Homo sapiens: one gene and its partner. The protein of the gene in region 1 interacts with the protein of each later gene in a pairwise test. Each region holds a gene or a part of one and is shown in the gene's direction. Other genes may lie near its edges.

Region 1 (3,828 bases):
GCTTTAGAAAAAGCTCTTTGGTGCTTTTTCTAAAGCACCAAAGTCTTATTTGAAAATAACATTTTGTGGATTAGGTAAAATGTTATGACAAAAGTCAAATGACAGCCCCAACTCATGATAAATGTGAAGCTAGTTATCCATTTATACATTTTCACTGAAATAACTTTCATCTTTGTAAACTTGGTATAAATAGTTCATTCAAGTAGAGAGAAAAATTTTTTTTCTAGAAACTGCTTAAATCTTTGAACTTATTCTGAGTTATATATATGGTCTGATGCAACTGATAAATTTTAAAAGACATACAGCTTTCATTGAATCTGAGAGTTAGAATGGCAAGATCACACAACGAGGTTGTGGCAAGTGCAAGTAGATCTAGGAGTGGTTGTCACTGAACTCCCAGACCAGTCAGTTTTCTTTATAGCACCGCTATCATAATATTTTTGGTACTAAGAAGAAATGAAATGGAATATCCTGGAGAAAAGAACAGGATGCACAGCAGTAGGTGTATGTCTTATAGTTTGCCTCATCATGTTAAGAAAAAACAATTGTGTGATTTTATTTTTTCCTGAGAAACTAGGGGACTGAAATTAATAAGTAGAGCAAAACAAAAAGTGTTTTAAAATCATAAAACAAATCTGTTTTGTTCCATTTGTTGTAAAGATTCTCTTCAAATATAATGTCATGAAAAAAAAACTCAAGCTCTTTCTTGTTATTTATTGACAGAGGATATTTTGTTTCCAAAAGTGACTGAGAATGGTATATTGTTAGATTATTTAAAGATACTTATTTTTCTTTCTGAGCAGAGTAGCCAAATAACCCCTTAGTTATATTTGGAAATAAGTGGGAACAGAGACCAAAGTGACCTCAGTAGGCTTTAAAAAATCTAAAGTATTTCATATATTAAGGAAATATAACCCATAATGATAAATGCCATTCAAAATCAAAATGAGTAAATTCAAAAGTCTATTTATAAATGCTCTTTTTAAAAGGGGCAATGAGACTTTGATAAAGATGTTTTATTAGACATTTTCTAGTATGAAATAAAAGTCAGTAGCAATAGAGCAGTTAATCCATTCTGAATCCTAATGGATTTTTTTTTCCTGTGTGGGAGAATGCAATGAATTGAAAGCTCATGCTGAAGAGTAAAATTCTGAGAACTGAAAAAAGTTTTCCCTCACAAAAAGAAATGAACTTCACAAAAAGAAATTTTCACGCTGGGTGCGGTGGCTCATGCCTGTGATCTCAGCACTTTGGGAGGCCGAGGCGGGTGGATCACGAGGTCAGGAGATCAAGACCATCCTGGCCAACATGGTGAAACCCCGTCTCAACTAAAAATACAAAAATTAGCTGGGTGTGGTGGCACATGCCTGTAATCCCAGCTACTTGGGAGGCTGAGGCAGGAGAATCACTTGAACCAGGGCGTCGGAGGTTGCAGTCAGCCGAGATCACGCCACTGCACTCCAGCCTGGGCACCAGAGCGAGACTCTGTCTCAAAAAAAATAAAAAAAGAAAGAAGTTTTCACATTCCCTTACAAAGAAGACAGGGGCCTTGTCCTACCAGGGATTTATACTTGGTATTAATTGACTGTAATGACAACTGTATGGTATTACACAGGAACAGATAGTCGCTCAGTGGGATAGAAACAATCAAGAAGTGTGATATGTAAGGTTACTTAATAATATTTCTGTTCATTTAGAAAAGCATGGCATAATTGACTCTTGATATGGTTTGGACGTTTATCCCCTCCAAATCTCATGTTGAAATGTAATCCACAGTGTTGGAGGTGGGGCCTAGTGGAGGTGTTTGGGTCACTGGGGCAGATCACTCATGAATGGCCTGTTGCTGTCCTCATGACAATGAGTGAGTATTCACTCTGAGTTCATGTGCGATCTGATTGTTTAAAAGTGTGGCACCCTGTCCCTCACTCTCTCTTGTTCCCCCCTTGCTGTGTTATGTGCCTCCTTCTGCCTGCTTCCGCTTCACCTTCTGCCTTGAATAAAAGCTTCCTGAGGCCTCACCAGAAACTGAGCAGATGCTGGCACCATGTTTCTTGTACACTCTGCAGAACCGTAAGCTGATTAAACCTCTTTCCTTTATAAATTACCCAGTGTCAGGTATTTCTTTACAGCAACGCAAGAATGGACTAACACAACTCTCCATCCAGAAAAAAATAGAGATCCCCTGCCTCCCACCATATAAAATTCAGTTAAAGGTTTACATATTAAAAAACATACCCTCTAAAATATTAAAAGGAAATTTTGATAAATATTTTAATACCTCAGGATAGGGAAGCTTTCTTAAGAGAATAAACCCTGAACTGATAAAGAAAATAGATAATTATTTCCTTATAAAAACATCAACATCTACAACAAAATCATTGTATAGCTAGAGACTATGTAAAGAAATTGATAGGCTAAGATAAAACATTTGTAACATATAACAAAAAGGTTTAATATTCTATATTCATCAGTACATATTAAATGGGTATACTATATGTCAGGCACTGGTCTTTGTTGTGAGGATATTGAGCTGAACAAAATCGATTAACTTTCCTGACTTCTGTGCCCTTTAAACATTAACAGATTAAACAGTTCTTAAAATTGATTTTAAAAAAGAGATAACCCAATAGAAAAATGGCAAATCTCAGAAGAAGAAATGAATATGACTAAAGGTAAAGATATGAAAATGCAAACAAAATATGGATCTATCATTTCTTTTACATAGATTGGCAGAAATGAAAGAAATGATAACATCTAGTGTAGGCCAAAGTGTAAGGCTTTAGGCTCCCACATTGTTGGTGGAAGTGTGAATTGCTACAACTGATTTAAATATGCTGATACTTTTTAGAAGTCTATCAAAAGTAAACAAAAGCCTTGGTACTTTAGGTTATATAAACAAGTATAACTTGTAACATATTTGTAAAAATTGAACTGGGCAGAACTTGGATGACCATTTGTTAGAAAATGGCAGAATAAATTATGGCACATTCTTAAGAATGGGCTAGATCTGCAGGTATGACGCAGGGAGGTATCTGTTAGGTGCAAAAGCGTGTTTTAGGATAACATATACAACATGATTGATCTCATTTTTTAAAATGGCAAACAACAATAAATGACACACCTACAAAGGAAAAATTCTGTCTATGTGTCTGTATGTGATAGGTATGGAGTAAGACATGCAAACTCTTTTGTGTATACTTCTGTATTTAATTTGTTTGTTTCAATGAGTGTTATTACTTCTGTAATTAAAAGAACAACAGAACTGCTAACCAGACTGGGTCAATTAGTGGATATACCTAGTGATATTTGGAAATATTGGGTCCCAGAGAGCCATGCCTTCATTATGTTTATGTAATGCATAAGGTATTATGCATTAGGTAATTTTAGTTCATGATTATGATTGTTCAACCAACATAAACAAAAATCTTTTTTATTACCCCTTCCCCCGGCCCTACATACTTGATTATGCCTTTTCGGTACAACAATCTAATGATAAATGAAAGCTAGGTATCAGGGCATGTATTAAAAAAATCAATAATCAATGATTAAAAATATGTGAAAATTGTTTAAAGGTATGGTAATATCCATAGGTACTTGGTATAGTGAAATGACTACTTGAAGAAAAGTCCGTAGCACAGGATTCCAGATCTTATTCACAGACTAAGTACCTGAATGACATTTGCTAAGTTGTGTATCCTGCTAAGGTCTTGATTTTGTCCCAAAGATTTTTTCCAGCTCTAGAATAGATTGAACCTTATAATTTAAGAGATATCCTGGACATTTTATATATTATCCTTAAATTTGAGGAACGCATTTTTAACAAAGGAC
Region 2 (3,828 bases), on another chromosome or scaffold:
ATTTAGTCATGGTACTCTTTCTCCCATGTCTTTCTCTGTTTCTTTAATTAACTTTTTATTTTGAGGTAATTGTAGATTCACATACAGTTGTAAGAAATAATACAGAGGTCCCTTGTTTACTTTTCCCAGGTTTCCACGATGCTAACATTTTGGTGGGTTTTTAAAAAATTATTTTCAGCCAGGTGCAGTGGCTCACACTTGTAATCCCAGCACTTTGGGAGGCCAAGGCAGGTGGATCACCTGAGGTCAGGAGTTCAAGACCAGCCTGGCCAACATGGCGAAACCCCATCTCTACTAAAAATACAAAAAATTAGCCAGGCATGGTGGCGGGCACCTGTAACCCCAGCTACTTGGGAGGCTGAGGCAGGAGAATTGCTTGAACCCAGGAGGCGGAGGTTGAATGAGCCAAGGTCGCACCACTGCACTCCTGCCTGGGGAGCAAGACTCTGTCTAAAAAAAGAAAAAGTTATTTTCTATTTTGATAATTTTGGTACCAAAAATTTTGTAAAACTATAGTATAATATAACCATCATATGGACATTGATACAGTCCACTGATCTTTTTCAGACTGTCAGTTTCTTTGTGTGGTGTGTGTGTGTGTGTGTGTGTGTGTGTGTATTAAGTTCCATATAATTGTATCAACTGGGTAGATTCATATATCAACCACAACAGCCCAGGTATTGAATAGTTCCAGCACTAACAAGGATCCCTAGTGTTTTCCTTTTATAACTACACATCCCCCCACCCCACACCTCCATCCCTTAACCCCTGGCAACCACTAACAATGTCCTCCATTTCTAAAATCTATCATTTCAGAAAAATGTTATATAAATGTAACCACAGGGTTGGCCATGGTGGCTCAAGCCTGTAATCCCAGCACTTGGGGAGGCTGAGGCGAGTGGATCGCTTGAGGTCAGGAGTTCGAGACCAGCCTGGCCAACATGGTGAAACCCCATCTCTACTAAAAATACAAAAATTAGGTGGGCGTGGTGGTGCATTCCTGTAATCCCAGCTACTTGGGAGGCTAAGGCAAGAGAATCCCTTAACATGGGAGGTGGAGGTTGCAGTGAGCCAAGATCGAGCCACTGCACTCCTGCCTGGGCAACAGAGTGAAACTGTGTCTCAAAAAATAAATACAGAAATAAAAATAAATGTAACCATTATGTAAGCTTTTGGGATTGGCTTTTTGAAGGACATCAGTTTTTAGTTACCACAAATAAAGCTGCTATGAACATTCGTGTAGTTGTTTTTGTATAAAGATGATAAGTTTTTATTTTTCTGGGAGAAATACCCAACTGTGGAATTGCTGGGTCGTATGGTCATTGCATATTTAGTTTTAGAAGAAACTGCCAAACTCTGGTTTTTTTTAGTGGCTGTATCGCTTCTATCCCTTCAGAAATCTGTGTTTGTTTCAGTTTTTCCACATCCTCACCAGTATTCGATGTTGCCAGTATTTTTTTATGTTGCCACTATTTTTTATTTTAGCCTTTCTTTTCCTTTCCTTTCCTTTTCTTTCTTTTTGAGACACAGTTTCACTCTGTCGCCAAGGTTGGAGTGCAGTGGCACAATCACGGCTCACTGCAATCTCTGCCTCCCGGTTCAAGCGATTCTCCTGCCTCAGCCTCCTAAGTAGCCGGGACTCCAGGCACACACCACCACACCCGGCTAATTGTTTTGTATTATTAGTAGAGGTGGGGTTTCACCATGTTGGCCAGGCTGGTCTCAAACTCCTGACCTCGTGATTCGCCCGCCCAGGCCTCCCAAAGTGCTGGGATTACAGGCGTGAACCACCACACCCAACCTTATTTTAGCCATTCTGATAGTTTATACAGTCATACCTCACTGTGGCTTGAAGGTGTGTTTCCTTGGTGGCTAATGAGGTTGAACATCTTTCCATGTGCTTATTTGCCATCTTTATGTACTTTCCGGTGAGATGTCTATTCATTTCTTTTGCCCATCTTCTAACCAGATTATTATTATTGTTATTATTATTTTTAACTGTCTTGTTTTCTATTATCCCTTTTATTTCTTACTCTTTTAGGAAACGCTTATTAGCATGTTCTATGTGTTAGCCATTTGCAATACAGAGATAAAAGAGAAAGAATTGGCCCTCAGAGAACTGGCAGTTTTGGGAAGAGACAAGTGAGCAAGTTTCTGTGTAGGAGGGCACTGACCTCCCAGCAGGAGAATAGTAAAATCTTGCTTCCTGGAGGAGGTGACACCTGATCAGCATTTGAAGGCATGAATATTCGTTACACTTGATATGTATTATACTATCTTTACATTTAGGACATTAATACAGTAAGAGATAGGGCAGTCTAAAAGCCTCTTCAGGGCATCCTTCTTTATAAGTAATTTGTTGTATGAACTTAATTCAAGGTTAGCAAACACGGAACACAAATGTCATGTTTCTTGGGGATTCTAAGGTAGAGATGACAGTATTCCAGATCCCAATGATGTGTGATCCAATGGGAGCTGGGGGTCCATAGCGAGCAGATAGCTGCTGGTTACAGAAACAAACTTAGCCACATGGGAGATTTAGGAGAGTGAGATATTAATTCTCACTAGGAGGTCAAAGAAGGTTTCTTGAAGAAGGGGGTTAGGGCTGGGATTTGAAAAATGAGTAGAGCTTCAACAAGTAGATGTAAAAGGAAACGGATTTGTTATAGACTCATAGGTTCCTGCATGTTACTGATTTCCAGTTCCCCATCTTGCTCTTACCCAGAGTTGCTTCTGTGGAAAGGTCTGCAACCTGGTGTCAGACTCCACATCTTACTAATGGGTCCAGTGAAAGAGGTCGCCAGTGGAGGTTGCATTTCGTTTTAGGATGAGATTTACAATCTATAGGAAGGAAGTCCTTCATCTTACAGATAGATGGCCTGAGGCCTAGAGAGGGTCAAATCCAGTCCAGCCCCATTGCCCCACTGGCCAGCCCAGTGGATGTGCTTTGTGTAGAAAGTTCTCAGGCCAGAGCAAGGAAGTGGTATGGATTTCACCCTATGGCTCTGCTAAAAATAAAAAATTGGCTGGTAAAAATAAAGTGTTGCAAAGTAAGTGGACTGGGGAGTACTTATTTGTTAAAAACACAGCTATTTTTCTCATATGATTTTTTTAATGTCCTTTAAGGGATATGATTTTTGGAGCCTGGCACGGTGACTCACACCTGTAATCCCAGCACTTTGGGAGGCCGAGGTGGGGAAATCACTTGAGGCCAGGAGTTTAAGACCAGCCTGGCCCACATGGTGAAATCCCATCTCTACTAAAAATAACAAAAATTAGCTGAATGTGGTGTCACACGCCTGTGGTCCCAGCTACTTGAGAGTCTGAGGCACTGGAATCGCTTGAACCCGGGAGGCGTAGGTTGCAGTGAGCTGAGGTTGCACCACCACACTCCAGCCTATCTTCAGCTTCAGAGTGAGACTATCTCAGAAAAAGAAAACAAAGGATACTTCATTTGCAGCATTATCCTTAAATGACACAGGAGTCAGGATACGGGATCCCTAAGGAAAGAAATTGTGGCCCATTACAGTGAACGCTGTTTCCATAATCACAACATTGTAAATGCTGTTAATTGGCTTTTTCAGCTTTTAGAATCCAGTTACAGATAAAACAGGGAAAACAAATATGTTTAGAGAACAAGAAAGGACATGTAATCAGTCTCAACAATGCACAAGCAAACTGGACAGAAATTGAGAGTTGGGAACAGGGTGCGGGGAGCCTGGTAGAGGCTGTCATACTCTTTCGTGGTTTAGAAGCCCAGAGACTGCACAAAATTGATGAGTGAGTGAGCTGAGGTTTTCAGTTTTTTTACTTAAGTTACAAATTTGT

What was found.
Region 2: the proteins of DEPDC1B (region 1) and EBPL interact in a two-hybrid assay, tested with the Homo sapiens proteins (one large-scale study listed by BioGRID and IntAct).

Annotation. Positions count from the first base shown.
Region 1 is NC_000005.10:60,693,481-60,697,308, reverse strand, and holds part of DEPDC1B (DEP domain-containing protein 1B), read left to right. Parts: intron 1-3,828.
Region 2 is NC_000013.11:49,670,752-49,674,579, reverse strand, and holds part of EBPL (emopamil-binding protein-like), read left to right. Parts: intron 1-3,828. UniProt on the Homo sapiens protein: Does not possess sterol isomerase activity and does not bind sigma ligands.